5 separate regions of the Homo sapiens genome follow, and regions 1, 3, 4 and 5 are each reported to be linked to region 2. The links are microRNA targets in miRTarBase. Many come from high-throughput screens and were not tested one by one. Region 2 holds a microRNA gene; each other region holds the end of a gene's coding sequence. Distances are between the middles of the regions.
What was found. The annotated mature microRNA hsa-miR-4756-5p reads CAGGGAGGCGCUCACUCUCUGCU and lies in region 2 at 3,716-3,738, shown strand. An mRNA with a match to its seed (bases 2 to 7 or 8) in the 3' UTR can be bound and repressed. Matches are read on the target gene's strand: a 7mer-m8 pairs with bases 2 to 8, a 7mer-A1 pairs with bases 2 to 7 and ends in A, and an 8mer does both.

Region 1: the mRNA of TMPRSS5 is a reported target of hsa-miR-4756-5p. Seed matches in the 3' UTR shown: 7mer-m8 at 4,498-4,504 and 8mer at 4,409-4,416.
Region 3: miRTarBase lists REXO2 as a target of hsa-miR-4756-5p. The part of its 3' UTR that is shown has no 7-base or 8-base seed match.
Region 4: miRTarBase lists LRRC59 as a target of hsa-miR-4756-5p. Seed matches in the 3' UTR shown: 7mer-m8 at 1,778-1,784 and 7mer-A1 at 2,300-2,306.
Region 5: the mRNA of RALY is a reported target of hsa-miR-4756-5p. Seed matches in the 3' UTR shown: 7mer-m8 at 2,059-2,065.

Annotation. Positions count from the first base shown.
Region 1 is chr11:113,683,401-113,689,573 of GRCh38, forward strand. TMPRSS5 (transmembrane serine protease 5) reads right to left here. Exons shown (of 13, transcript NM_030770.4): 13 at 4,150-4,874. The coding sequence ends at 4,860. It overlaps LOC107984390 (a long non-coding RNA gene), which reads right to left and starts at 3,110. Exons shown (of 3, transcript XR_001748391.2): 1 at 1-3,110. RefSeq lists an enhancer at 5,940-6,173.
Region 2 is chr20:54,066,017-54,072,189 of GRCh38, reverse strand. It overlaps MIR4756 (microRNA 4756), which reads left to right and starts at 3,705; the gene lies at 3,705-3,782. It overlaps BCAS1 (brain enriched myelin associated protein 1), which reads left to right and starts at 1,596. Exons shown (of 13, transcript NM_001366298.2): 1 at 1,596-1,757. RefSeq lists an enhancer at 2,003-2,877.
Region 3 is chr11:114,448,782-114,454,954 of GRCh38, reverse strand. It overlaps REXO2 (RNA exonuclease 2), which reads right to left. Exons shown (of 7, transcript NM_015523.4): 7 at 4,676-5,109. The coding sequence ends at 4,980. It also overlaps the pseudogene LOC100422382. Among named protein-coding and RNA genes, the nearest start is that of REXO2, 12 kb to the right of the region's middle.
Region 4 is chr17:50,378,242-50,384,381 of GRCh38, reverse strand. It overlaps LRRC59 (leucine rich repeat containing 59), which reads left to right. Exons shown (of 7, transcript NM_018509.4): 7 at 1,147-3,144. The coding sequence ends at 1,394. It overlaps EME1 (essential meiotic structure-specific endonuclease 1), which reads right to left. Exons shown (of 9, transcript NM_152463.4): 4 at 5,701-5,787; 5 at 5,487-5,608; 6 at 5,158-5,275; 7 at 4,815-4,930; 8 at 3,881-4,070; 9 at 2,899-3,619. The coding sequence ends at 3,443. Among named protein-coding and RNA genes, the nearest start is that of EME1, 8.1 kb to the right of the region's middle.
Region 5 is chr20:34,078,048-34,083,996 of GRCh38, forward strand. RALY (RALY heterogeneous nuclear ribonucleoprotein) reads left to right here. Exons shown (of 10, transcript NM_016732.3): 9 at 458-506; 10 at 1,863-5,949. The coding sequence ends at 502. Among named protein-coding and RNA genes, the nearest start is that of EIF2S2, 31 kb to the right of the region's middle.

The DNA of each region.
Region 1 (6,173 bases), not on the chromosome of region 2:
GTGATGGGACTCTGCATCTAGAACCATTGTTTCCTACTATCAGATGTCACAGCCAGAGGTTCCTTGGAAGGGAGAAAGCTCCGAGATGATGCCAGCCTTTTGCAAGTCTCTGCCTTCCTGGAGCCCACGTGCTGTTCTGGGAGAGGCTAAGTAGCAAGGACTCTGTGCCTCTGCAGCCACGATTTCTCTCTCCATTCTGTTTGATTCCCCAGCTTGGTTCCCTCCAGCACCACCTCCAGGTGAAAGCCTCCACAGATCCCCCTGGAGTGCTCCACCCTGGGGAGACTCCGAGCAGGCAGGCCTGCTTGGCCTCTCTCTTTCCCAGCCTTGAATGTATGAGAGAGACCAGCCTCAGCCCTCAGGAGTAGGAAGCTGCTGCCTACCTACTTCCTTACGAACCTGCCTAGAGGTGGAGGGATTTAACACACAGTTGAAAAAGTCATTAACAACACCTGGCTCTGATTAGTTTAGTAGGAAACAGAGTCCTGAGGGTGCGGCACACCCTGAGTGTTCACTGCAGCATGTCTGCTAGGGAGGTATAGATGGGGCTCAGGCCCAGGATGCTGGACTGGAAAGTGGGGGCAGGTGAAGGTAGGTTTTCCTTTGAGTAGCTGTGGAGCAGCAAGAGGGTCCTGAGAGCATGGCCAGGAGACGGCAGAGTAGAGAGGAGAGAAGAAGCATCAGAGGGACTTGGGAAAACATCTGACAGCTACCAAACCAGTTCTAAGCATTTATAGCATTTCCAGTTTTGTCCTATTGTGGGTGAGCCAAGCACCTCCAAAAAGAAAATATAAGAAAGAGCCTGAGAAATGTTCCTGAGGAATGGCAGGGCCGCCCCTTGTTCCCAGAAACCCTTTTAGGAAAAGCACGACTCCACAGAAGGTGTCAGGAGGGGAGAACCTGAATCTGATGCTAGAGGGATGCTGAACCCTCTAGCATCCTTGAGACCCCACAAGCACACAGAAGAAGAGGGAAGGGATCTGCACCCATCATGGCAGCCAGGAATGACCCTCTTGGAACATCTCAGGAGGCTCGAAAGCTCTGCCCAAGCAGGTGGGATGCTGAATCCTACCGGAGGAAGGCAGAGGTTTCCCACATACAGAATTACTCTGACTTCTGTAACAACAGGCTCTTGGAACTCCCTGAGCAATTACTACCTCCCCACTCAGCTCTCTGCCTGGCTGGCTACTAGTAATTTATTGCAAATAAGTCTCATTTCTCCAATAAGACAGTCGGCTTTTCTACCTCCGAATTCCCTACAGAGCTTAAGATAGCTGGGAACCCAGCTGGTCCTCATTAAGGCCCTTCTGAACCCGAATCTTCCCAACCTTCCTGGCCCCACCTCCACCCCTTCATTCCAGGAGCAGGCTCAGGGGAACGGAGCTGGCCAGGCCACTCGCTTCCCTTCCCTTTCCAAAGAGCTGGACTGGCAGATGCTAATAAGGAAAGTGAGAGATTCTGCATCTGCAGATCTGACTGGTAGCCTGGCCAAAGAGAACAAGAACTTCTGTATAGGTAAGCAAGGAATCTTTATTAGCAAATTCTCTAATTAGGGTACCCTTTATAGCTCTCCTATAGGAGATATTCATTTGTAAGTTTTAGTCAAGACCGTGAATCTCAGGGAGAACTGAAAATTTCTAAGAATATTGTTGAGAAGGGTCTTTGGCAGGAGCCTCTTAAATTCCTGGGTTTTGGTTCCTTCATCTATAAAAAAGTAGGTGTGGGAGGCCGGGTGTGGTGGCTCACGGCTGTAATCCCAGCACTTTGGGAGACCAAGGCAGGTGGATCGCTTGAGGCCAGGAATTCAAGACCAGCCTGGCCAACATGGCGAAACCCCATCTCTACTAAAAAAAAAAGTACAAAAAAAATTAGCCAGGCTTGGTGGTGCACACCTGTAGTCCCAGCCACTCAGGAGGCTGAGGCATGAGAATCGCTTGAACCTGGGAGGCAGAAATTGCAGTGAACCAAGATCATGCCACTGCACTCTAGCCTGGGTGACAGAGTAAGATTGTCTCAAAAAAAAAAAAAAAAAGGTAGGTGTGCCAAGGCATTACTATAAGCAGGTGACTTACACCAGGTGACCTGAGCAAGTACCTTCCAATTCTATTCTTCTGTGCAATACTGGACCATCTCATTCATTCATGTGCATGACAGTAATGTGGATTTAGAGTAAAAAGACCCACGGTTGACATCCTGGCTCTAGTGCTTACCAGCTGGGTGGTCTTGGGGGAGTCACTTAATCTCTCTGAATTAATTTTCTTATCTGGAAAATGAGGACAATAATAATAACATCTGCACCACATAGATTTGTGAGCTCCCACATATGGGCATGTTTTCTAAACTGTAAAACACTATTCAAATGTTACTGAGTATTGAAAGACCTTGATGGCTGTAATTTTTTTAAACTTCCCTTTAAATATGCAAATGATTATGATTGACATCAGAAACACAAAAAAGATCACAGCTGCTGGATTTGCTGTTAACTTATCCCTGCCCAGGGGGATCTACTACCCCATCAGTGCCTCCTGAGGCAGGGACTTAAGGGAGCTGGGCAGTAAATGTTGATCCCAGGGTAGAGGCTGAAGGTCTGACCTCCAGGGACACAGGGCGAGGCTATTTTGCCATTCAGCAGAACTTCTCCCACGTTGCTTCTACAGTTTGACAGCAGACTCCCAGCAACTACTTCCCTGGTTAATAAACTGGCAGTAAATTGAAACCTTCATTTTCTAGTGCACTTCATGTAAAGGGAGCAGACCCTCTAGAAATGAGTAATCATTTGTACAACTCCTCAAAAAATATGCTGATAAACTCACAAAGTTCTGTTATTGCTAAACACTAGTTGCATTTCCTTGGGTAAGCACCATAAAAAATTCACTGCAGTTTTTAGAAAGAAGATGCCAGTCACATTTTAACTGCTAGAGAGGAGAGAGTTGGGGAGAGGCTTACCCAAGGAAATGCTAACTGGGCATAAAACTCAAAAAGAGAGGCCAAGTCAAAGGCCCAGTTCCAAAACAAGAGCTAAGAAGGAGAGATGGGTCCAGGTGCGGTGGCTCACACCTGTAATACCAGCACTTTGGGAGGGCGAGGCAGATGGATCACCTGAGGTCAGGAGTTCGAGACCAGCCTGGCCAACGTGGTGAAATCCCGTCTGTACTAAAAATACAAAAAATTAACCAGGCATGGTGGCTGCAGTATGCCTGTAATCCCCGCTGCTCGGGAGGCTGAGGCAGGAGAATTGCCTGAACCCGGGAGGCAGAGGTTGCAGTGAGCCAAGATGGCACCACTGCACTCCGGCCTGAGTGACAGAGCAAGACTTCGTCTCAAAAAAAAAAAAAAAAAAAAAAAAAGGGGAGAGAGAAGGAGAGATGGGCCTTGCAGGGAAACCAGACCTTCCCAAGAGAGCATTGACTTAAGTGCTTCTCAGACTCAAGATCTCAGAGCACCTGGATGGCTAAGGCTTTTCATTGCAGATCATGACATGTAGATTTTTTTTTTTTTTTTTTTGAGACAGAGTCTCACTCTGTCACCCAGGCTGGAGTGCGGCTCGGCTCACTGCCATCTCTGCCTCCCAGGTTCACGCCATTCTCCTGCCTCAGCCTCCCGAGTAGCTGGGACTACAAGGCGCCCGCCACCATGCCTGGCTAATTTTTTGTATTTTTAGTACAGATGGGGTTTCACTGTGTTAGCCAGGATGGTCTCGATCTCCTGACCTCGTGATCTGCCGGCCTCGGCCTCCCAAAGTGCTGGGATTACAGGGGTGAGCCACCGCGCCCAGCCAACATATAGATTTAACAAATTTAAAGAATTAAACAAACCCCATTTCTACAAAAGATACAAAAGAAGAATTAGCCGTGTGTGGTGGCATGCACCTGTAGTCCCAGCTACCAGAGAGGTTGAGGTGGCAGGCACTGAGCCCACAACATCGAGGCTGCAGTGAGCAGAGATGGTGCCACTGCACTCCAGCCTGGGCAAAACAAATAAGCACAAACCAAAATTCTCAAGTAGATGAACAGGAGTCAGCACCAAAGCTTCAATATGTATAGAAGATAGAAGGAAAATTGTAATTCTACCCTGTAATATGTGTTTGTGTCTGTCTGTCTGTCTGTCTGTCTTTGTGCGAGTGAGAGAGAGGAGACAGAGAAAACTGGACCAAGACCATATATCACTTTAATAACAGAACTCCTTGGACCAGTTCACAGAACTGTCATTTAAAACCAATGTCCTAGACCAACTCCAACCTTCTTGTTTTCCAGTGTACCCACCCCACACAGGGCCAGCCACAGCCAGGTGAGAACAGGAAGGGGAGTGGAGAGGGAGAGTGGAGAGGGTCCTGACTCCCATAGGCTTCATCTGGGCTGGCCCAGCCTTGACCCCATCTGCCCAGGAGCCTCTCAGCCATGGAGTCCTCTAGGGAGGCACTTAGCCCACCTAGAGCACAGGAAAAAGGTGGGACGGGGGGCACCTCCCAGCACCCTCCCAAAAGACTCACACAGGGGCAGGGAGGGGAGAGGGCAGAAGGGCAGGCTTCCTGCTGCTTCTAGCAGCCTCTTCATCTCCAGCTCCTACCTCTCTCCTCCCCCTCATCCCTCAGCAACCACAGCATGCCCAACCAAGTCCCAGCCTCTCTTCTGTCATTGAGTCTCTAGTGAGAAAGAGGACTCTGAAATCAGGGCCCAAGAGGAGAGACCTGTTGGCTGGGTGGCTGGCCAGTGGGTAGTGACTGTTCCTCACACACAGTAGTAGGAGGTCCATGCGTTCTGTGTCGGAGGCTACTGCCTCTCCTCCATTAGTGGAGCTGCTGGAGGCCCCAGGAAGCATGAGGCAGTGGTGTGCAGTGAGACTGGAGGAAACAGCAGGACTCAGAGGAGGGAGTCCTAGACCAAAAGGGAAAGGAACTGATTCACAGCATGGCTCTACACTAGCCAAGCGACTTTTATTTTAGTAAATCACTTAACCATGCAGGGCCTTGATTTTCACTTCTATCAAATGAGGCTAAAAATATCTGCTGCTCAAGATTTTTTGTAAGATTTCTTTGAGAAGATCAATACATACATTCCCTGTAAACTCCGAATGTATTATCTACCAACCCCCACCCCTGCCCAACCTTAGAGGAAGATGCTTTTCATGATCATGCCCTAAATTTGTAAAATACTTTAGGTAAATAATGTTTTTGTTTTGTTTTGTTTTTGAGACAGAGTCCTGCTCTGTCGCCCAGCCTGGAGTGCAGTGGCACGATCTCAGCTCACTGGAACCTCCGCCTCCCAGGTTTAAGCGATTCTCCTGCCTCAACCTCCCAAGTAGCTGGGTGCGTGCCACCATGCCCAGCTAACTTTTGTATTTTTAGTATAGACAGGGTTTCACCATGTTGGTCAGGCTGGTCTCGAACTCCTGACCTCGTGATCCGCCCACCTCGGCCGCCCAAAGTGCTAGGATTACAGGCGTGAGCCACCCCACCCGACCAGTAATGTGTTTTTATACACATTATCTCACTTGGCCTTCCCATTGAACAGATGAAGGAGAGTGGCTTGCCCGGAGTCACACAATTTACGTAGGTGCAGAACCCGAACTGCTAAATGCTGAGCTCTCTCCACAGTGCAGGGAATGTGGCCACTAGTAACTGCCTTAGAGACCAGGGATGAATGATGGTAACAGATATACACATAAATAACACGATAGGCCGGGCACAGTGGTGCATGCCTGTAATCCCAGCACTTTGGGAGGCCAAGGCTGGTGGATCACCTGAGCTCAGGAGTTCAAGACCAGCCTGACCAACATGGTGAAACCCATCTCTACTAAATACAAAAAATTAGCCAGGCGTGGTGGTGCATGCCTGTAATCCCAGCTACTTGGGAGGCTGAGGCAGGAAAATCGCTTGAACCCGGGAGATAGAGGTTGCAGTGAGCTGAGATTGCACCATTGTACTCCTGCCTGGGCAACAAGAGCAAAACTCCATCTCAAAAAAAAACAAAAAACACTGCAGATCACTCACTCTAAGCCTAGCACTGTGCTAGGCATTGTACGGGTCTTATTTAATAGCATATAACAATAGCATATAAGTAGCCATCATGGTTATTATCAGGAAATTAAGGTTTAACAAAGTTAGAAATTTGCCAAAGGTCGACACAGGAAATGGTAGATCTGGGATACAAACTCAGGCATACTCTTACCCAGTT
Region 2 (6,173 bases):
TGGGAGGCAGAGGTTGCAGTGAGCCGAGATAACACCACTGCACTCCAGTCTGGATGACAAAGCAAGACTCCGTCTTAAAAAAAAAAAAAAAAAGAATGAACAAGTCCAATCAGCCAGGAGTTGCAGAGTACCTACTCTATCATAGAGGGATCCCCATCCTCGTTTTGCAGGGTGCCAGGAGTTGGGGATACAAGAATAGATGCAAAATAAACACAAAGGAGCACACAGCTGAGGGGGCTGACAGAGACTTAGGGAAGTACAGTAGCTTGCTCATAATTCCACAGCCGATCAGTAAGAATCAAGATCCGAGCCCTTGTCTGTCTCAACCCAGGGCCAGAGCTCAAGCTCCTGAGCCTCCAGGCTTGGGTCAGCACAGAGCGTGTGCATGGCAGCTGCTTAATAATTGGGTTTACTACATTCCAGATTGACATGTACAGTGCTGAGCTGGAATCGACTTTACAACCCTAATTACGGTGTGCCTGGTTGTGTATTCAGCATTTATTTAAATAGTATTTTTTTTCTTAAATGTTGATTTCTGAAAGAGGCCTTCCCCAGCTCTCTCTATTTCTCTCCCTTAGCTGCCTTGGCTTTTCTTTTATAATGAGAATCACACCCTGTAATTCTATGTTTATATTTACAGGATTCTATGTCCAATGACACTGAGTGCAAGAAGGGTAGAGACCCAGCATCTTTTACTCACCTCTTTAAACTCTGGCTTATATATATAGCCTGGTGCTTGACAAGTATTCATGATAGGGGTTAAGCTGAGTATACTGTTGAATAAAACCACAATAATTATTGGTCGCAATTCTCTTGAATGTCTTCTCCAGAGCACTAAGTAGTGTAACTTATCAAGTTTCCTTTCTTGCATTGGCTGTTAGGAAGCTCAAAGCCATATCTGCAAACCCTTCATAGCAAGTCTGTAAATCAACAAGAGCATTTATTTTTGATCCTGTTCTCATTTGATGTTCCAAATTTTGTTCTTCAATCTTCTTTTGTTACATGTTATTTCATGCTCTCATAATCTATTGTATATGTCCTTGTAAGACACTTTAAACAACATCCTTGCTTGAATTAAATAAATTGCATAGCCTGTCGAATTTCTGGCCTGCAAAGAAAAAGAATGCCCTTTCCAACATCATGGTATGTCTCCAGAGCAATAAACCACCCTCAGGTTACCTGATTTCTGGTGTCCAAACCCCTTTGGGAATAAGGTTTACATGACTAGGGGTAGTTGAGTGGATGAGAAGCTATTTCCTTCCAATTAGGTGGTTAGGTGGTGGTGGAGGTGGTGTTCTGAAGTCAGCAGACAGAACTACAAAATCTCACAGAACGTGTTTTCCCTGCTCTGACCATGACCTACGGTTACTGGGGAAGGAAACTGCTTCCCCAGGTCAACCCGGCAGCCTCAGTAGGTGAGGGGCACTGGGTAGAATACTTGGGGTGCCAGGGAGGCATTAATGCGAGAGGAGTCAGGTGCTCAGTTTTTATTGGAGTTGGGAGGGCAGCCCCACATCAGGAAGAGAACCTGTTTCTGCAGGATGGTCCGGGGAGAAGGGAGGACTCCACCCAGGCTTGTGTTTGCCCTGCTCTGTGTATTCAGCCAGCAGGCTCTGCACAAGGAAGCAAAGTGCAGGGAGCCAGGCTCCACCGACAGCCAGGCACTGGGCAGCACGCACTGGAGACCCAGGACCCTGTGCAGGAGCAGCTCCGGGTGACACGAGGGGACTGAAGATACTCCCACAGGGGCTCAGCAGGTAACTGCTTTCAGATCCTTTAGGCATGGCTGGAGGGTTTGCTGTTTGTGGTAGACGGTGTCATATAGAGGCCAGGGGTCAGACAGGGTCAAGTTTGATCCCAGCTCTGCCTTCTGTTCACTGTGTGGCCTTGGATATGTGTAAGCCTCAGTTCCACTATCTGTGAAATGGACCCAAAGATAGCACTCATCTCAAAGTTTTTAGTTTTACAAGGAGCAAATGACAATGTGGTCAGTGTTAGGCGCATAGCCACATAAATAACTCCTATTTGGTGGAACTATTGAGGGTCATTTCAAGCACAGGACATGGGGAGAAGTCACTGGATGGAGGGATAGGCTGTGTGATTTGGGGATCCGTCAGGGCAAGAATGCCCCATAGCCGAGTGGAATCTGAGCCTTCACCTCAGGCATTGCCTAAAGAAGTGGGAGGACAAGAAAAAGGACTTGTGGAGTGCCTTTTGTGAATCTTATTTAACGCTCAAGACCACCCTATGAGGCAGCTGCTGATTCAAATCCTGGCTTCAGGACCCCTGCTGTTTACATCTCCCTCTGAACCAGTTTCCTGCCTGGAAGAGTCATTGCGATTAGAATGCGGGTGCGCTGCAGCCACACCGCCAGATGCCAGCCCCAGCTCCACCCTGGGCTGGCTGGGTGCCCTGGAGCAGGTTCCCTCAGCCCTCTGGGCCTCAGTTTCCTCATCTGTAAAGTGAACCTAATAACAGTACTGAGATCAAAGGGCTGAGAGGACTCTACTGCCCGTAAATACCTGTGCACTTAGTAACTCTTAGCTGTGGTTCTTGTTTTCGCTGTTACCATCGTCTCCATTTTACAACTAGGAACATGAAGCTGGGTGAAGAGGGAGCTGCATCTGGTTCCAGGTCTCATGGAAAGGATGCTGTGGAACTGGAGTCCAGTCGGGCCTGGGATGAGGGTGCAGCCAGTGAGACTCTCACCTTGGGCACGAAATGTAAGGGATGCCAAAAAACTCAGTCATGGAGATAAACGGTATGTTAACACAACATTTTTAAAAGTCAGAATTAATGGCAAGACACCCGTGATGAACAAACTATGAACATGTTACAGAAAGATAAGATCAGGAACAGCGGTAATTTTGATTTTCACAAATTTCATGTTAAAATACTATTCATCTCCATGGCTGAGCTTTTTGGTGTCCCTTACATTGTTCCCCCGGAGTCCAGGGCCTGATCCGCCTCAGCCTCCTGGGGATCCTGAGCTGATCACAGCAGCTTCAGGCCCTGGGTGTATATACTCAGGGTATGTAGAGGGTGCTTCCTCCTAAATAAAGACAACAGACGGGGCGGGGCATGCTAAAGTAGTTTCTCATTTAAGTGAGGGTGGGGGAACAAACCAATGTCCCAAATCACAGAAGATTCTTTTTTTCCAAAGAGTTCTGGAACCCAGAAGGGTTTTGTTTTTAGGAAAAAGGCATGAGCTTTGGGAAAAGCAATGGGCCCGTTAAAGCCCATGGATTCTGCCTGCTTTACCATGACAAGAGATGTGGAGGGAGAGGAATTGAAAAAGGCTTTGGGTTGGGGGCGGGGGTACCTTTGCACCTTGCAGGCTCATCTGTCCTGCTGGAGTATTAGATGTGACTTGATTGTCTCTGTGTCTGCAGCTTCTCTTCAAGCCAAGTGCCCTGCCCTGAAGCAGTTCAGGATTTGAGTGCCTGAGTCACGTGGACCCAGGTTCAAACCCCAGGTGTGCCTCCCCGTAGCTTTCTGACTGCTACTCTTGGGCAAGTAGGACTAGTAAGGTGCCTACCCTCATGGAGGTGACGTTCGTGAGATGAGGGGATGGCATTGCTCAGCCTTGGTTTCTTTATCTGTGCAATCAGGGAATAATGGGACTCTGCAAGGGAAAAGGAGACAATGTGTGTGAAGTGCCTGGCACCAGGGTCAGGGCAAGGGTGAAGCCAGTGAGCACCTGGGGGATAAAATGCAGGGAGGCGCTCACTCTCTGCTGCCGATTCTGCACCAGAGATGGTTGCCTTCCTATATTTTGTGTCCTGCTATGCTCACCCTGGTGCTGCCTGGCACATAGTAAGCCTCCAATTAAAATTACCTGCGATTATCATGCACTTAACAATGTTTGGTGCAATAATAAGACTATGAGAGCGAGCTCTAAGATTTTTAGGATTACCATCCGTTTGTGCAAACATAATTAAGTACTCCGAAAGCAAAACATCAATCACCAAGCAGCCCTAAAACATCCAAGGTGATTTTGATCAAGGCACCCCTGCCCCTGGACCCACAAAGTCCCATACCAGGAATCAGGGCTTGGGCAGTTCAGTGAGGACTGGATTTCAGTTCCCTGTGTCCCCTTGTACAGGAGGCAACCTGTAGCACTGTACCTGGCACTCCTGATAATAGCTGCCGTGTTCCTAGCACTGTGCGGGCACACACATGGAGCTGCAGGACTGTGGGGCAGGCAAAGCGGGGTTGTTCTTTCCTCCTGCAAGGTCTTTACTGATGTTGGGGGCAGAGGGCTGGTTCTGCTGGGTGTGCCAGCCTGGCCATGTTGGCGTCACCCTCAGCTGAGCAGTGAGGAGGGCCCCTGGGTTACCTACATTCCATTGCATTGATCGAAGGTGTTGCTTGTTTACTTGGTGACTAATTCTGTCACCATTCCACCCTTCAAAACCACCCCCCCTCCCATTCAACAGTCGTCTAGCTGCCTGCTGGTGATGAAGTTTCAGAAGTGCTTTCTCCAGGCCAGCTTGCATGGGGTTTGGCGTTTGGCCTGTTTCCAGGAGGAGGGCCTATTATTAATCTGTAACTACAAGGAGGCGACATGGACCATCAATCACTGTGTAAAAGAGGAGGGATTTGAGGGCAGCTTCCAGGAGGCCAATTCACTCATGGATCAGAACACAGAACTAACTCAATTATAACAATAATAAGATAAATGAATAATATTAGCAATAACTAACGTTTACTCACCTGAGTACTGCCAAGCCCTGGCGCTAAATCCTTACAGTGATTATCAGTGACCCTTCAATTGTTCAATCCTCACTTTATTTGATTTATTTATTTACTTATTGAGAGAGTTTCATTCTGTCGCTCAGGCTGGAGTGCAGCGGTGTGATCTCGGCTCACTGCAACCTCCGCTTCCTGGGTTCAAGCGATTCTCCTGCCTCAGCCTCCCAAGTAGCTGGGATTACAGGCATTGTGCCTCCACATCTGGCTAATTTTTGTATTTTTAGTAGAGACAGGGTTGCGCCATGTTGGCCAGGATGGTCTCAAACACCTGACCTCAAGTGATCCACCCACCTCAGCCTCCCAAACTGCTGGGATTACAGGCATGAGCCACAGCGCCCGGCCTAATCCTCACTTTAGATTGTACCATATATATTCCTTGCCTAGTTATAATTTTCTCATTGCAAGAATGAATATGCAGGAAATATTTTCTATTCCATGTTCTATTATATTACATATAAATATTTCATAAAACTATAACATCACTTATACAGCAGAAGAGACAGTAGAAAGTATGAAAATAGAAAAGTTAAAAGTCTAAACTCTGGACTTGAGTTTGCGAGGGTTAAGTCCTCATTCTCCCACTTACTAGAAGATGATCTGTATTAGTCAGCTTGGGCTGTGGTAACCAAAACACCACAGACTAGGTGGCTTAAACAACAGTCATTTTTGTTTTCTCATAGTTCTGGAGGCTGGAAGTCCAAGATCAAGGTTCTGGCCGATGCATTTCTGGTGAGACCACTCTTTCTGGCTAGCCAACAGCTGCCTTCTTGCTGTGTCCTCACACGGTTGAGAGAGAGACAGAGAGAGCTCTTTGGTGTCTCTTTTTATAATGACACTAATTCTATCAGATCAAGGTCCACCCTTCTGATTTCATTTAGCCTTGATTCCTTAGAGGCCACATTTCCAAATGCAGTCATATTGCACGTTAGGGCTTCAACACGAATCCAACACGAATTTTGGAAGGACACATTTCAATCCATAGCATGATCTTAAGTGAGGAGTTTAAGTTCCCTGGGCTCAGGTTCTGCATCTGTAAAATGGGGACAATAAAAATACCTGCCTCGGCCGGGCCCGGTGGCTCACGCCTGTAATCCCAGCACTTTGGGAGGCCAAGGCGGGCGGATCACGAGGTCAGGAGATCGAGACCATCCTGGCTAACACGGGGAAACCCCGTCTCTACCAAAAATACAAAAAATTAGCCGGGCGTGGTGGCAGGCGCCTGTAGTCCCAGCTACTCGGGAGACTGAGGCAGGAGAATGGTGTGAACCCGGGAGACGGAGCTTGCAGTGAGCCGAAATGGCGCCACTGCACTCCAGCCTGGGCGACAGAGCCAGACTTCGCCTCAAAAAAAAAAAAAGAAAAAAAATACCTGCCTCATCGGGTTCTGATAAGGAAGCTGTGAGTTAACACAGAGAAGC
Region 3 (6,173 bases), not on the chromosome of region 2:
ACCAGGCTGGAGTGCAGTGGCTCCATCTTGGCCCACTGCAACCTCCACCTCCCAGGTTCAAGTGATTCTCCTGCCTCAGTCTCCCGAGTAGCTGGGACTACAGGCCTGCACCACCACGTCCAGCTAATTTTTTGTATTTTTAGTACAGACGGGGTTTCACCGTGTTGGCCAGGATGGTCTCAATCTCTTGACCTCGTGATCCTCCTGTCTTGGCCTCCCAAAGTGCTGAGATTACAGGCGTGAGCCACCACGCCTAGCCTTGTTGACATTTCTTTAACTCACAAATACCTTGACATGCTGTCTAGAGAAACTGCTCCTATATACTGATTAATTATGGAGGATTCAAGCAATTCTGAGTTTTTATAGCATCCTCAAACTGAAAAACCTTCAAAATTAGCCATTTTTTCTTAATTATTTATGTATTTAAGAAATAGAGACAAGCTCTTGCTATGTGGCCCAGGTTGGTCTAAAACTCCTGGCCTCAAGCAGTCCTCCCGCCTCAGCCTCTCACAGTGCTGGAATTACAGGCATGAGCCACTGTGCCCAGCTAAAACAAGCCAATTTAATGCCCTTAAACAATCAAAATGTAATGCTAAGGAAAATAAAACAATACACGCCAGAACTGGAGTGCAAAAGCAAAAACCTTTTTGCTATAGATTTGTAAACTAATGGGATCCTTTCCCAAGGGCATGCTAGAAATATAAAAAATGAAATGACAAAAACTTCCCATGTTTCTATCCTTCGTTAGGCAACTTCTTATCCTATTTCAGTTTCCTGAAACATCCCTGGTTAAGACTCTTGTGATTAAAAAGACAAAAACAAGTGTTTATGTAAGTCCATCAGATTCCTCATTAAAGCTGAAGTCACACACCAGATACCAGTGGTCTGAAAGATGGTAGCCAGTTGGATCCAATCTGTTCTTTGGTGAGCAGATCAAGAGCTGACCTTACATTTAGAGCATGCTTAGAATACCAGAGGGTGTGCCTGCCCTCCCCTGGGGTCCAGATCTTCCTGGTAGTATATGGGGGTTCTGACTGCCCACCAGCACTCAGGGGATTGTAGGCACTGTTCAGGTTGAGGCTGGAGGAAGCAAAGTGTTTCTAGGCCTCTTGTGTTGGTTCTGCATTGAAGTCCCCTCAAACAACAAGGGGAATCTTGGCCCTTGAGTGACATTTTGCAGGTTCTGAAGAAGGTCACAGCCTTGAGCTGATCAAAATCACGCCCAGCCAGTGCGTGCTTTTACATGGGTGACACCGATGCAGAACTGTTGGTCTGACTCCTTGCACTCTAGGAACTGTGCAATGGCCACCTGATTAGTTTTCAATGTCATGGCCATCAGCCTAATATTGGCACTGTTCACTAGCCTGATTTGGTTTTGGAGGAAAAATTAAGCACAGCTGTCTGGTCCACTGTTGTATTCTATACCTAGACAAGATGACCAGGGCTTGGGGGAAAAAAAATGTGCCTTGATAGCCCAGCCTCCTGAGGAGTGGTTGGAAGGTTTCAAAATACTGTTCTACCTCTTGGAGGCACAATATATCAGGCTGGTAGAATAGGATTTCTTCTAGCGTGAGAAGCTTCCTTTCTTCTCACTTGAGTGTTTCAACAGGGCATTGTACAAAGTTGTCTTTGTCTTTCCAAGAGCTTGGATGAAGTTGTTCCATTGCATGACTCTAATAGGTAGGTAGTTACTGGAGTCTGTCCTCAGATCCACAAAATCTCTCTGGAACCAGGGAAGTTAAGTATCCACGACAGCCCTGCATTCCTCAAAAAGCTGCTCTTTAGGATCTATGGGCTCCAGATGTTCTAGGTCAGGTAATAGCAAACACTCTGGGTGCAGGAGGCAGCAGCACTGCTGTTCAGTGTCTTGGCGAGAGCGCTAGAGTCTGCTCATACTATTTCAATCGTACTTCGACTACCCATACAACCGTTCTGCTTTTCACCTTCTCTACAGTATTAAGTTACATGGTATATTCAACACTTTATTATAAAATAGGCTTTCTGTTAAGATGACTTTGCCCAACTATAGGCTAATGTAAGTGATCTGAGTACATTTAAGGTAGGCTAGGCTAACATGTTTGGTAGGCTAAATTTATTAAATGCATTTTTTACTTAATAGTTTCAACTTACAATGGGTTTGTTGGGATGTAACCCCACTGTAAGTCAAAATGCATCTGTACTGATTCATTCACCTTGAGTTTAATAGGGGGAAATACACCTGGACGATCCTAAGAACATAGCTTGCAGGACAATTACTGCACCGAACGAACCAGCAAATGAGAGGCCCCCCAAGAGCACTAGAATGGCAAGCTCTACTAAGCAAATATACTGATCATTTTTCAAGCTGTAGTTCTATTTAAACCAATTTGCACTGCAGTTCATTTCACAGAAATTACTTCATAGCTTCAGGAATCCCCTGTGAAATCCTAAATACCAGCACTACAAATTTAAATTTAACTTAAAAATACTTAAAAATAATGAACTAATCACTGAACCAGCATGTCTTCATATATACCTGCACTAGACTGGTTTTGCTTAACTCACAGGCTACCAGTTATTTTATTAAAATTCAACACAAGCTCCACTAAAGGACAATAGAATTAGCTACACAATTAAGATACAGAAGACAGCATTAAAGCAGTAACACCAGGAGTTAAAAATTTTTAAACTGGCTTGAACAGTTAAACAGGTGAATAAACCAGCCAGTTGTGTGGAAGAAACCTTGAGGCATTCATTAATAGCAGTATCTGGTTCCTACGAACCCTTCTTAAGCCCAGTGTTTTCTTATCTATCATCACATTAGAATTTAACATTCCTGAAAGCCAAGTAAGGGCAAAGACCCTTTTGCCAAATTTAGTTGGAAACACTAAACCAAGTCAAGGTCACACTATTAGTGAAGTTTACTACAGTCCTCAGCACAATGTAGGCAGTCATAGGCATTAAGTGAACGCTGATTTAAGATAATGCCTCCAGCCTCATAACTAATCATAGTACCCTTTATTATCAATATTCATTAGCTATCATTACACGATGCTCACTGTGCTGAGCTCAGAACTGTATGAATAGCATTTAAATTAATTCTAACAATTCATTAAGTAACGTTATTAACCTCATTTTACAGATATGGAAACTGAGACTTAGAAAAGCAACTTGCCAAAGTCACTCAGTATGTCAGGGGCCTGAACTTGAATTAAGAGTTTGATTCAAGAGCCCTGTTCTTAACTACAGTTGAACCTTGAACAACACGGGGGTTAGGGGTGTCAAACCCTTGTGCAACCAAAAATCTGTATATAATTTTTGACTCCCGCAAAACTTAACTACTAATAGCCTACTACTGACCAGAAGCCTTACTGATAATATAAAGTCAATTAACATAGATTTTGTATGTTATATGTAAGAGATAATATATTTTTTATACAAACATCAGGAACAATATATATGTTATATTCTTACAATAAAGTAAGCTCTCAGAAAAGAAAGTTAAGAAAATCTTAAGGGAGAGAAAATAAATTTACTGTTCATTAAGTGGAAGTGGATCATCATAAAGGTTTTCATCCTCATGATCTTTACATTAGTGGACTGAGAAGGAGAAAGGGGAGGGGTTGGTCTTGCTGTCCCCGGAGTGGCAGAAGCAGAAGAAAATCTGCATGTAAGTAGACCTCTGCAGTTCAAACCTGTGTTGTCCAACGGTCAACTGTACTACCCAATCCTGCCTTCCAAGCCACTGAAGTTGGTGCATAAGCTAAAACCCATGCCATTCCAGAAAGAAGTGGTCAAAAAGATCAGCAGACTTATGTTTTCATAAATTCATTCTTAGTAGACTCATGAATTTCAGTCTTAATTCACTCATTTGGAAAAAGTTACACTACAATCCCTCTCTCCACTGATACAGCTGTAGTGTAGGTAACACAACTTAGTACATGTTAAAATGTTACTCAAATGAAAATATTATGGGGTTATTCTGATCTACTAGCTAGTGATCTATCTGTAACTATCACACATCAGGATCACGCTACTATGTTCATATCTGTAATATGAAATGTAATTTGACATCACCACAGAAGTCTTCTCACCTAGTGGTTCTCAAGGAAAGGAAAGTAACCTGTGGGCCTTTCCCAATTCTGATTTGTCTTCAAGGGGAATTTGTCAGAATGAGGTGCACAAAGCAATGAGATGTGTTCTACAGATGATTCTATTGCACACTCTGGCTAGGAAATCACCTTAGTACTGTGGTCTAGAATACGTAAACTTAGGAATTAGTATGTTCGAATTGAAATCCTTTCTCAGCTACTTACTGACCATTAGAACTAGGGCAGCAAGCTATTTACATTCTGTAAACCAAGCAGTCACTGCTGTGCATATAAATAAGCCCTAATTATTACTTGCAATAAACCTTAGTTACAGAATCCGTCTGAATTGAATTTCCTGAATGTAGCAGAGTAGCCTAGTCCAGTGCTGTTAATTCAATAACTCTAACAACGAGCCCAAATCTGCTTCTTTAAACTTATCTGCGGTTATTCTAAAGCAAAACATATTCACTTCCTGTTTGACATGAACTTATTAACCGATTCCTAATTGCATTACAAGAGTTTAAACATTAGCCATATCACTTAAAAAAGAAAAAGCCATCTTTTCCCAATAATTAAACTACTAAAGAATAGATGGTACAAAAAGGTTTGCATTTCAATAGAACTAGCTTTATTTACTTATTTATTTATTTAAACAAAAGAAATGGTTTAAAAGCAAATGCATATATGTACCAAGGGATGGACATGACCTGGTACTTACAAAGGAGCTGCTGTGTCATAATGGAAACAGCATATTAGGAGAAAAATAGTATTTCGTGTGCTGTCTGCTTGAGTAATCAATCTGGAGATGCAAGTTAACCGAAGGTGCTCTGCCAAGCCATCAGCGTGAGAAAAAAAAACCACCAGAAGTTGCCTCCAGATAACGATGTAGTGGCAGCATGATAACTGGCATCAACTCACGGTCTTCTCATTTTCCCCATTTTCTATAATTTTCCTCTTCTTTTCATCTATTTTTTTCTTGAAGATGTTATTTCGGTAAAACTGAAGCTCTTTGATGCTTTCACTAATGTCATCAAGTGCCCTATAAGCAAACATACCACAATGAATGAACTGTCCAAAACCAGGAGATGAAAATCATTTTAAAAGTACAACTTTTAAAAAACGACTTAAGAACAATGGATGTTACTGTAAGTGTCACTGTCTAGCATCATCAAAAGTAGAACATTTCAGAAAAGCAATTTTCTTTAAATGCTTTGTTTTTTAAAAACTTTTGACAAAAAAATTTGTAAAATATAGAAGATTAAAGTTTCCCAAATTGTTCCAAAAGATGGCGACATGTTCCACAGGGAGAAAAAATAATTCCACGGTCAAATAAGTTTAGAAAAACTAGAGTAAACTTTTTACTGAAATAAAAAGTTGCAAAGCATTTAATATACTAATGTGTATTATGAATTCCCAAAAGGAAGCTGTCCTATATTTCTAATTTATTAATTTTCTAAAATTAATAAATTTTAGTATTTCTAAAACTTAATCGACCACATTTGTAGAATACTTATAAACAGTTCATGGAACACAGTTTGAGAAACATTGCCCAATACTTGATGATGTCCCTCAACAAAACAGACTGACACACTTGAACATAAGTCATGACTCAGTCATCATAATAAACATCAATTATCAAACAGTACCTAACCATACCAGAGGATCTACCTCCTCTCTCATGGTGATTTGTGCTATAATCAGTGGCAGCCTGCCTCCATCTAAGAGCCTTTCTTTTCTTCCAATATGTTGTTTCTCATCTGTTGTATTCTGAGAAATCAGGTAACCAAGATTATTAGAACAGTGTGCAAGTAAATCAATAAACTCTGAATCATGGGCCAAGGGCCACTTCTAGAGAATTCCCTGCACAAATTTTAGTGCAAGAGTTTTATGACAATTATTTGTGTGGCTAAGGCAACCATCTGCTTTCTTTCCAGGACTTGGATATATGTCAGAGCCGAAGCTGCCAAAATTATAGCCTCTGGCTAAATAAAGGCACACAATATCTTATCCACAAAACTGAAATCCAAAACACACCTGAAAACCCACAGTACTTACAGAACCTATTATGTAGCAAAACCTGAGCAATCTTAATGTGAGGCTATT
Region 4 (6,140 bases), not on the chromosome of region 2:
GTTTGAGACCAGCCTGAGCAACATAGAGACTCTGTCTCTACATAAATTAAAAAATTAGCCAAGTGTAGTGGCACACACCTGTGGTCCCAGCTACTTGGGAGGCTGAAGCAGGAGGATCATTTACGACCAGCCTGGGCAACAGTGAGACCCCTCACTGCTTGAACACTAGAGGAGTCATTTGGCCTGCATTCAGGGAGCCACATTGTATAGAAAACACATTTTTGTGTTTTACCTGACTATGGTTGAATTTCGTTAGTGACGTGGCTCCACATGCTGCAGAGGATCAGATACCCTCTGGGTGAAAAGGGACTCCTGAGGGAGAGGCAGGTGAGGGAAGGAGCTCTGTACAGAGAGTGGAGGCCTGTGGCCCTGCCCCTACTCACCCTTGTCTTGACCAGGACAGGGCCACAGGCCTCCACCTTCCTGATCTCACTGGTTTTTAATTTCCTTGTTGAAAATGAAGATCATACAGGGTAGTGATAAGGATTAAATGAGGAAGCAGGATCATGCAGTTCCTGGCATTGTGGATGATCAGTCAAGTTTTTAAAAATTTTGTCTAAAAATCTCAAAACCAATTTTTTTCTAATTAAAAATGTAACATATGTTCATTGCAAAGAATTGAGAAAAGATACCTATCTATCTAGATACATATATCAGAAAATGGCAACCACCTGTACTCCCCCATTCCTAGCAATCATCACTGCTTACAATATGGTGTATTACCTTTTGGGCTTTCTTTTTATATACACATTATATCATAATAATGACAATAATGATAAATCCTGACCGTGTTTCCCCAAGTGGACAGTACTCTGTCAGCGCTGGATGCTTCCTGATAAGCCTCTCCCTCTGCGATCCCAAGAGGCGTGGATCACCATGTTACCAAGGAGAACTTAGGACCCTGAGGGCTGTGAGCTACATGAGACACGCAGAATGAGTGCCAGTTGCAAATCTACCCCCTTCAGATCCAAGGGAAAAGTTGTTTCTGTTTCGGTCTGTGGAGACATTTTTTCTCTTCAGGGCCTGGGGAGTTTTTGCTTGAGGAAGGAATGTAGGTAGATCTGCACGGAGGAGACTAGCAGAGATTAGTATAGAGCAGGTCTCCTCTGACTGAACTTGCTTTGTCTACTGTTACTTTTCCTCCAGAATCTAAGTCTGGCTCCCGTCCCCGCAAGCCACCACCCCGGAAGCACACTCGTTCCTGGGCTGTGCTGAAGCTGCTGCTGCTGCTGCTGCTATTTGGTGTGGCGGGAGGGCTGGTTGCTTGTCGGGTGACAGAGCTGCAGCAGCAGCCCCTCTGCACCAGCGTGAACACCATCTATGACAATGCGGTCCAGGGTCTACGCCGCCATGAGATCCTCCAGTGGGTCCTCCAGACCGACTCTCAGCAGTGAGCTTGTCCCCAGCACCTGCTGCCTCCCAGCCTTGGAGTTTGGATTCCTATGGAATTGGGTTCTGCTGGACACAACCTCTTTTTAGCATCAGACCTACCTGCCATCATCAAATGGCTGCAGATTGGTACATGAGACCTCCTCTTTGTAGGACTTCTTCATTCCTTAGTCAGGGTTCCCTGAAGGAATGAGGAGAAATGGGAGGTGGCGGGGGGGCGTGGGGGGCAGTTACCTGCATGCCTAAAGGAGTAGGCTTGGGGGTGGGGAGAGAGAAAACATAGCCTTTTCTAGTTGTTATATAAAGCTGTGTAAAGGCAAGGCTCGTTTCTACTAAATGGTCAGCTGTCACTACATTTATACTTTTGTATGCCACAAACCCTTTCATTCCTCCCTGGGAATCAGGGTAGATCAGGAGGAACTGGGGGGGACTAGAACACCACGCTCAGTAAATCCAGTCTAAACTGGGAGGTAGGGGTATTCCTGTTTTCTTTAGGACCTCAGAGATGTAAGCATTTTAGCAGCCACACAAAATCTCTGGCTATGAAAGGGACTTCATGACCATCCAGTCCAATATAACACTTGCAGACAGAGAAACTGAGGTCTTCCATGACTTGCCTAGTCTCCCAGCTAGTTTGAGGCAAAACTGGATTCCCACTCTGGTATTCTTTCTTCCCTTTACATCATTTTCCCTCCTTTATAATGTCCTGAGAGACCAGAACTCACACCAGAATCGATTATTCCTCAGGTGAAGCATAGACTCTTTCATGGTAGACAGATTTCACGACTCAGAGATAGAAATCTCTTGCTATCATCAGGTCACGGGCAGCTCCTGTGGAGTCCTGCCCAACTTATGTGGCTTCCATAAAATGGCAACAGTCCAGGCTCCTTGCCTAATTTTAGAGCATTAACTCCCTAATTGCCAGTAAGCAAGGAGGTGGATCTCTGCAAACCTACACTGTCTATGACAGCTCTAGTTGTACTTGGTGTGACTAAATACCTCAAAGGCAACCTGCTTCTGCAGGTTTTGAAGTGTCAGCTTCATAAGACACTGAGGTTTAGAATTGTTTGATTCTAGACCATAACTGAAGGGCATAAATGGAAACAGGATATGAAGGGAAACAAGTAGCATCATGGAGCTGAAAAGTGGTGCATCACCCAATGGCTAGCACAAACAAGGATCACACTGTCCATTCTCTTGTCTGCTAAATTAAGCATTTTCTTGCCTCCTTTGCTTCATCTTTTCACAACAGCTGGATAGAGGGATCAGAAATGACTGTGTCATGGTGCTCATTCACTGCAAACTCCCAGTTGCAAGCTCCTTGGCTCCCCCGGAGGGAGCAAGAATCTCATAGTTCAGAGACACAGAGGGCCTTTTAGCCCTAATGACCTTTTGGATGGGACTGCAACTCATGACTATCCTGATATTGGAAGAAAGGACTTTGTTAATCTTCTCCCCCATAGCTCTGCTGCGTAGGTCTACATCTTACTCAGAATCACTACACATTCCTTTAGTCTTCCTCCAAGCTCCAGAGCCATTGGTACAAATGCTTTATTGAAACTAAATACATAATACACACAATGAGATGAAGACAATATAGAAGTCCGCATAGTCATCATAATCCCGTTCCTTGGCCGGTTGAGGCAGCTCAGTGGCTGAGCCCAGTCAAGCCAACCCGCAGCTTCACTCACGACTTCAAGATTTGATGCTAATTCTTTTGGATTTCTACAGTTATTAAATAAGTGTCTGAGTGGACTGTCTTTGTTCCTTTGTGTTTTGAGGGCTGGCTGGGTAGGAGTGGGGGTGGTTTGTCTGTGGCAGTGAATTTTTGCCAGGAGAGGAACATTAAATGCCAAAGGTAGGTGGCAGTATTTCAGTCTCTGCCCCAGCCGACAGGCAGAGAGACCTTCACAAATAATAAGACCCAAGAAAGACTGGGCCTCACCTAGGCTTGTGTTCCAGGAGGTGCTGCCAGTCTCTTCATTACAGTCAGGCTCTGAGGTTGGGGAAGTGGAAGTTTCCAGCTTTTCATCCTCATCCCTGAGGGCTAGAATCAGTCAGCACTATCTAAAGAGAGATGTGGCTGTAAAGTGGTCATCTGAAGGTAGATACGCCTGGATAGTTCTGGTCCAATGCGGCGAGAAGTGGATGTCACACCTTCCCCACGGCGCACCTGTATGTCTGCGAGCAAATTCTGGCGTTCTTTATCCGAAAAACACTGCTGATAAGCCTGGAAGTGGTAGATGACCTCTTAATATGGTACCATCCATGGTGATCCCTTCTCCATGAGCATGGAGGGTGCTACGCTTGGCTTGGGGCATGAGAACCTGTCCTCCCTCCCTGGGTCAGCATTAGCAACACTGATCTTAGTAGACCTGCACTGCTGACCTGTGAGGCCTTTGTGGGCCCTCAACAGTTGTCCATGGAAATCTGGGGGCCCACTGAGCCCGCAGGCAATGGGCAGTGACCCCTGAGCCCTGGAGCAGCATACCTGTACCAGGAGCTGTGGGGAGGGATAGGCATTCACAACTGCACTGGCCATTTCCAGGCTGACTCGGTTCAGCTGCTGAATCTGTCTCCTCCAGACTAGTGCGAGTCCCCTGCCAGCAAGGTCCACCTTCACCCCTCCAGCCCAGTCACTCTCCAGACAGAAGGAGAAGGTAGTTTCATCTCGGAGCTTCCTGCAACAGCGTGGTTGGAGAGCTGTAAGTTGCTCATTACTCTTCTACACCTGTTCCCCTCAAGTGGCAACTGAAAACCCCCCCACTGACCTTGGAAGAGGTGGGCGCCATGTTACATCTGGCCTTTTTGTGCCTTTGACAATTTGAGTGCTCACTTTGTTGCCAGGTATAGGGCCAGTTGCTGATTCATTTAAAAACTACATCTAGTCCATTATAGTAGAAGAAAAGATACCAGATTCTTTGGATATCTGGCAATCTGCAATCTATTTCTGGTTCTTCTAACTGCTAGGAGCTTAGACAAGTCAATCTCTTCAGGCCTCAGTCCCCTCAAGTATAAAATAAGGGACTTGGACTGGATTGTCTCTGAGGTCATTTACTTATTTTAAATTCTGACAGTGAACACTTCTTGAACTGAGTAGGCCAAAAATTTGCTTTCCTAGTGCTTATTACATTGTGATCTGACCTGTAATTAATCCTGGTAACTTGGCCTATGGTAACCTGGCCTATGATATCAGCCTGCAGAACACATACTTACATATAGGCGAAAGGAGAATATTTGAAAAGGCGCTAGGCTTGAGGACTCTTCCCAAGAATCCCCAGTGTGAGGTCAGCTCCTTCTGCCTCAAGCTTGAGAGACAATGGGCTGACTGCAGAGATGAGGGGAAAGGGACATTTGCTTTGACTGCAAGAGCCATGGTAAAGGACAGGCCCAGCATGGAGGCTGGACTTGCTGGGGTTACTCACTTGAAGGGCGCCTCAGCCACAGCCTTTGTGAATGCGCATGTGAAGTCGGCCAGCTCTTTCCAGCTCTGCACAATTTGAGCCTGGGCTTCTGTGTGTAGCTGCAGATCCACCAATGCCTAGAAACCCAAAAGCAACGATGGACTGGAAGGGTAGGAAGAGACTAGCTGCCAAGTCACTGTCCACTAAAGCCACACCCCAGCCCCTTGGCTTCCTGTTTGGTACCTTCTCTTAGTCAGTGCCAAGGCAGAAAACAGTACGCAGCAGGCATTTTATTCTCTATCAATAGCAAGTCTCAGGTGACCAGTGAGTACCCAGCCCGATTCAGGCAACAGGACGTTCTTACCTCTTCAGCGTCTACCCTGGATACCATGGACCCTATGCTGGCCTCTGGTTGTCTCTGCTGCTGCTTCTTGGTCTGTTTATTTGCTCCCTGTTTCCCTCTTCTTGGAGGATTCTGAGCACTGGTGCAGGGGAGGAAATCAAAGAACAGCAGCTCCAGGCTGAAGTCAGGCAGAAGATACAGAAGAAGACTGGACCAGAGCATCCCCCTGGACTTGTTAGAGATGGACTACCTTGCAGAGTGACCTACATCTGCAATGAATAAACTAAACTCACCCCCCTTGGCCCAAGAGCTGCCCCTTTTAACATGAAATCACCAGGGCAAATCCAAACCTGAAGCATTTCTCCTGATCCACAATCACCAGTGACAGAGCTTTCCCTGCTGTCTTTGCTGTGATGTCAGTTACAAAGCCCTGAAGCGTTTCCTTCCCTTTCATAGTGCTGTCCAGGCTTCCCTGCATGAAGGGGCAGAAACTGCATTAATACTTGCTTCCTAGTAAGAGTCAGCCCTCTGTTCCGTGTCCTCCCACCCTCTGGCTCTGCCCACCTGCTTTCCATTGTCGATCATGGACACAAATGCCTCTGCCCGGAGCAACACCAGTACTGTTGGCTCCTCCACCCAGTCCTCTCTGTCCTGCCAAAGTACCCAGAACACAGCACAGGGAGGGAGGTCAGCAGGTATTGAGCACCTGTGAGAGTGGCCCAGGTCTTCTGGGTGAATGAACTAACTCCCACCCCTTATGCATTATCCTTTCTGGAATGAAGTCACTGTGGCAAGAAACAGTGTCGCTGTCCCTCCCAGCCCTCAATGATTCAGTCTTGGTGCCCTGCATCTCAGAGACAGTGAATAAGAAAGGAACATAGCAGCCGGGCGCGGTGACTCACGCCTGTAATCCCAGCACTTTGGGAGGCCGAGGTGGGCAGATCACGAGGTCGGAGATCAAGCCCATCCTGGCCAACACGGTAAAACCCCATCTCTATTAAAAA
Region 5 (5,949 bases), 20 Mb from region 2:
AACAGATGGGCTCATGGCCATGACGGTTAGGAGGTCTGCCTTATGCTAGCTCATCTCTCCTTTGAGCGTAGCCTGATCCTTCATCTTATTTTCTCAGGCATAGCAGTGTCCATAAAGGCCCTAACAAAGACTTGGATGCCCCCAGAGATGGGGAGCTCACCAGTCTATAAGGCTTTCAGCCTTCTCCAGTGCAGGCTCTCTGCACAGAAATGGGGCTCCTGCCACTCCCAGAACACCCTTCACTGGCCTGTGTGGGGTCCTCAGACCACCCTTCCAAGTTCCCAAGCCAGCTTTGTTGGCTGGTCCCATAGTCATTCCCCTTGGCTGTTCCTGCGTCTTCTGACTGTGTCCTCTAGATGCCCTCTGGACCATGAAGTTTTTCTGGACAAATGGCTCAGGGCAGGACTCAGAGCTGGCAATGAGTGATGTGTGGTCTCTCTTACCTCCTCCCTATCAGGAACACAGCCAGGACACAGACGCGGATGATGGGGCCTTGCAGTAAGCAGGTACAGGGGTCCTGTCCTGATGGGCAGAGGGTGGGGAATCAGTGAAGTGGAGGTTGTGCCTTTTCCCTGGATTGGGCAGGAAGTGTCACGAAGCATACCTGGCCAAGTAGCACTGACTATACCCAAGAATGAAGTCCCCTCCATATCTAGCCATCCCGTCACACCCCTTCATGCTTGGGGCTTGCCATGCTGAGGAAGCAGGTGCCGTAGATGGGCCAGGCGGGCCCACCTAGCAAGGGTTCCTTCCCTCAGCACACTCAGCCATGTTGCCTGTCTCTGCCCTTGAGGAGCTCCTAGTCTGGTAGAGGAAGACATAAGCCATTACCACCTAGTGTGAGCAGGATAACAATAGAGCGAGGCCAGGTCATGGAAGAGATGATGTGTAGCTGAGCCTGCTAGTGATTGAGGGAGCAATGTTCCACACCAGGGGAATGGCCTTAGCCATACAGAGCTGTGACAGTCCTTGGTATGTGGTGAGGCCAAGAGCCTCCTGTGGCTGCAGTGCCCCCCTAGTTGGTAGAGGACTCTGCTTATTGTCAGAGGGTGATGATTGTGAAGGGCCGTATGTGTCAGGCTTAGGGGCTGGGATTTGATTCTTTCATGGGGAGGAAATGCCCTGTGTGACAGGAGCTGCACCTGCTTTCTCTGAGTTCATCTTCAATCCCACAAGCTGATGATTGTACCAATATAATAGATGTGGAAACAGACACTAAAGGGTGCAGGGAGATAAGGTAGTAGTTGGTGGAGCCTGGATTTCAGCCCAGTGGTGTGTGGCTTCAAAGCCCACTCTCTGGCCACTGTTTACCATCTACTCTGCCCTACCTTAAAGGAAAGCCAGGCCACACCTGGCTGTGCCTACTACTCTCTGACCCATTCCCTTGGGGTGGCTTGGGTGGAGGAAGGTCTCAAACACTAGTGTTTCCAGGGAGGTGTCTGGATAGATGACACATTTATGCTGTAGTAAGATATCCCACCAGCAAAGGCTTCCAGAAGAGCTTTAGAAAATTGTACATATGCAGTCTTCTTTTGGAACTTCTTGGTTTGTTTTGCCTGGGATGCAAACAAACCTCCATATCCAGCCATCCTGCTACACCCCTTTGTGCCTGGTGCTTTCCAAAGCTTGTTAAAATAGTTCACAGGTGAGTTATATGGGCTCAGGTGAGGAAATGGAGGTTCAGAGAGCGGGTGAGACTTGCCCAAGGTTACATGGCCAGGAAATTATGAGGCCACAGCCAGAGTGCAAGAATCTCTCTGTCTCCAGACATCATTCCACCCTTTCTTCCCTACCCCTTTTATCAGCAACAGGGTCTCTTCCTCTCAGCCTTAGTCTCTTCTTTCTCTCTCTCTCTTTCTCAGCCTGACAGGAGCAATGGCCACCAGCAGGTGAAGGGCATCGCTGCCCCAGGCCTCAAGCCGGGCACCCAACCCTGGATGCCACCCCCCAGCGGGTACCAGAGGAAAGCTGGCAGCAGGCGCCTCCTCCCCCAACGCATCCCAGCCAGTGCCATGTCCTCTGCAGGTGGAGTTACTGGCCTACTCCTTCCCCATGAGCCCTCCCTGTCTGCACTGCCCAGGCCAGAGGGTAGAGCACAGGGGTTTCCCCATACTACCTCCCCTCCCCAGGACACTCCCAGGCTTGGGTTTTTTCTATAGGTTTGGCGGGGGGCCACAGGGAGGGGACCCTGACAATAAAGAGATTGGATCCCAACCTGTTCTGAGATGGGATGGTTTGTGTTTTCTCATGAAGATATCCCGGCCCCTCTGCCAACCAAAAAGCTGGTCTAGGGTGCCTAATACTGATCCATCTGGACCTTAGTGTCCTCAGTGGTGATTAAAATGGCCAGTGGGGCCACTGGGGAGGGTTGGATATGCTGGCCCATGAGCATCTTGCTGGCTGAAGTGTCAAGCAGTTGTGACCCACTTGGTTTACCCCATAGTAGGTCAAGACCTTATCTCTTTCCCCAGCTTCTAAGTCTGGTCTTTCCCAGCTCTTAAAAGGATTCTAGAGTCTGCCAGTCTCTACCTTCTCTCTTCTGGCTTAGGACACTATAATTTTTTCATTTGGACGTTGTCCTCCCACCAGCCTCCCAGTCTTCTGCCTCTGCCCTGTACCATCTCCCAGCAGCCACGCAGTCTTTCTGAAACGTATCCCTTCCCTGCCTAAAATCCCTTTACTGACTCTTCATCATCAGGACAAAACCCTACCTCCTGAATGTAGGGTGTAAGATCCTGCTTACTCCAGCCTCTCCTGTTTCTTGTCACCACCCCTTTCCTGCCCCTGACACAAACCCTACATCTCAGTCTCACAAAACACACAAGTTCTTCACACTCCGGGCAGGTTTGGTAGCAAGGAATAGAGCGTACTCCAGTGACAGCAATCAGTAGGAAGTTTGCATCCGGAGACACGCAGCCTGTCTGCCCCTGTCTTGGGCCACCCGTCTAGACATTTGTTCTCTAACAATCAGCCGGGTTCCTTCAAACGTGTGCTGCTTATACATGCTCATTGTGTACTGCTAATGTCACCTACTTCCCCCTTCATTCCCCACAATGAATGGATCCATTTTCCCCATGTTCAAGTTCCCAAGAGAGAATCGACTGCCACTGTAATTTTTTTTCCTAATCACTCATAGGTTACAAGTACCTACCCTGGTCCAGTGAACTGCGGGATTCATATGTGGCCACTTAGGCTGGTCTCGTTGGTATGGAGCTGTGGGAGGGCAGCACCCAGAAATAGGCTTTGTTCCAGGCCTGGCACGTACTCCTCCTGCTCCTACTTTCTCTACCTGGGAAATAGCCGCTCAGGACGAAGCTGCTGCTGTGGTGTCGCCACCTCTGAGAAGTCTCCCAGACCCTCCGACTGCTCTTTAATTGCCTGTTCTCTCCTCTGGAAGCCTTCCCCCAACACAGAAAAATTCAATCCCATCATCAAAAAGGGCTTTAGGTTTTCCCTCCATCTTTACGTGTTGATCAAAGTTTGCAGATCTGCTGGAATCCTTATTGAAAACTCCCCATTTCAAACCAACCCGGTCTACAGCCTCCAGGGAAGCTTCCTCCTGGGCTTTGGCTCCATGTTTTGGTAGAGGGTGGAGGCTTTGGGCAGTGCTCAAACTCCACCGGGAAGTCTCTCTCACTGAGCAGCCCTCCTGCCTGTCATCCTGGGCAGGCGAGCACTCTGAGGCCCCAGTGTAGCTCTGTGCTTTGATATTCCCAAGCTCTGCTGGGGCCTGACTAGGCCAGCCCCAAGGTGGCCAGAGTTCTGGCTTCATACCTGAGCCAAAAGCCCCAATCCATGCTTGGCCATTGCCTGAGTATTAGCTGCCCCAGGGGGATCACGGTCCCCATATATTTGCTTGCCATGGACCCTGGGCAGCAGGGAGAGAGTAGAGATTTGTCAAGAGCCCATGGTGGAGGCTGAGGCCCTGAGGCCATGAGATGCAGGCATGGGGTGAGAAACAGGCCCCTTGGAATTGGGCTGGGCCTTGGCCCAGCTTAGTCAAATCAAAAGGCTTCTATTTGGAGAGCTGAAGAGGGTGTACAGAGGAAGGGGCTAGGTCTGCAAGGAGTGCCTCATCTCCCTGAAGAGCTCTCAGTGGAACATACTTCACCCATCCATGTACCCACATCTTTCCTTGCCCAGAAGGCGAGAGCCAGCTATAACAGACCCATTTCAATACCCTGGCAAGTCATTACTGCCCTTAGCTCTTGGTGTCCCCATCTGTGAAACATGGGGGACAGCTGCTAGCCTGGATTGGAACTTGGGCAAAGTCCAAAGAATGGGATTTAGAGCTGAATGAACCTCACACTGAGGGCACAATAGCACTAGGCACTGCCCCCAGAGCCTAGTGCTATATGCCTGCTGCAGGTCCTACCCAAGCATGCTTTACTGAGGAACTCAACGTTTCAGAGCTTGAGGGTCAGGTTGATCATGGGCTTGTGACCATAGGCTTCCTTAGTATGCCAGGCTTGGAGAACCGTGAGAAAAGCAGGGAAGATACCTTCAAGGGTAGCAGGCATCAGCTCTACTCACCTTGGCCCATAAGGCTTTGCCTGGTCATGCTGGCACCGGGTCATATGCTGGACAGGGAGAACGAGAGTCCCATCCTGGAACTCCAGAAAAGCCCCTGGATGCTCCAGCCCCTGGGAAAGCACACAGCCAGGCCCTTGGGTGGGAGGTTGGCTTCTAACAGTGCATACACATGCCCTTCCTCTGAGTCGGGGCAGCAAAAACATCCATTCCGCTGCGCAACAGTTGTCATTTTTCTAACATCTGAAAACTCCAGAAGGAGATGGTGATAAATGTGGTACCGGATTCTGCCTAAAGGATCAGTCTTTAGATGTTTTCAGATTGAAAGCCTCATTTGTGATCCTCACAGCCATCTTGAAAGAATAGAGCAGCCAGTGGGTATACTGGATTGTGAGCTAAGAGGCCTGGGACTTTCCCCCTGTTGCTGCCAGCCAGGTTGATGACCCTGGGCAAGTCTTTTTCCTTACCAGGTCTCAGTTTCCTCAGCTGTAAAATGAGAGGTTGATCTGGATCAGGGATAGTAAATGGGCCTTTGTTCAGTTACTGACTGTTGTATAACAAACCACCCCCAAATTTAGTAGCCTTAATAAACATTTATTAGCTCCTGAGTGAGTGGCTTGGCAGTTTGGGCTGTGTTCAGTGTGGTGGTTCTTATCTCATCTGGGCCCTCGTGTGGCTGAAGTGAGCTGGCAGATCAGCTGGGGACTGGCTGGTCTCAGATGGCCTCGCCCGCCTGTCAGGTGGTTGGCTGGGCAACTGGGCCACACGTTCCAGCATCTAGCAGGCTGACCCAGGATTCTAGACATCATGGCTGAGTTCCAAAAACCGCAAGAGAAGACAAGCCCAGTATGCGAGTGCTCTTGAGGATATTGCTATGACGTATCTTTTGGCCAAAGTAAGTCACATGGCTAAGCCCAAATTCTTCTTAACAGGAGGAGCTTCAAAATATGGCCATATTTAAAAAATCTACCTCAGGACTCATTTCACTTGCCAACTCAGAACTTTTAGTAGCAGCTGCCTGGAGTGCCTTTTGAGGATCTGCAGCAATTTTCAGACTGTTTGGAAATACTGACATGATAGTTTGGCAGTTTCTCTTATGAGCATGGAATTCAAGTGTGGGCACGTGAGCGTCAGGTATTTGCCATCCCTGGCCAGGTTGACCCGTAAGGTCATAACCTGCCCCATAGGATGTTATATGCAGTAGGCCTGTCTGACAAGACCACAGAAATAGAGAAGGCAAAGCAGAGCAAAAGATTCTGAGCCAGGCATCCTTGGTTTTCATCCCAACCAGATCATTGATTGATTGAGGTTTTAGGCAAATCAAAATCCCTCCACCAGTAGCCAGATTCTTCATAATAAACTTCCTCCATAACAGTAAACCATTTCCTGAACACCTGCTGTTAAAAAGCACATTTTACA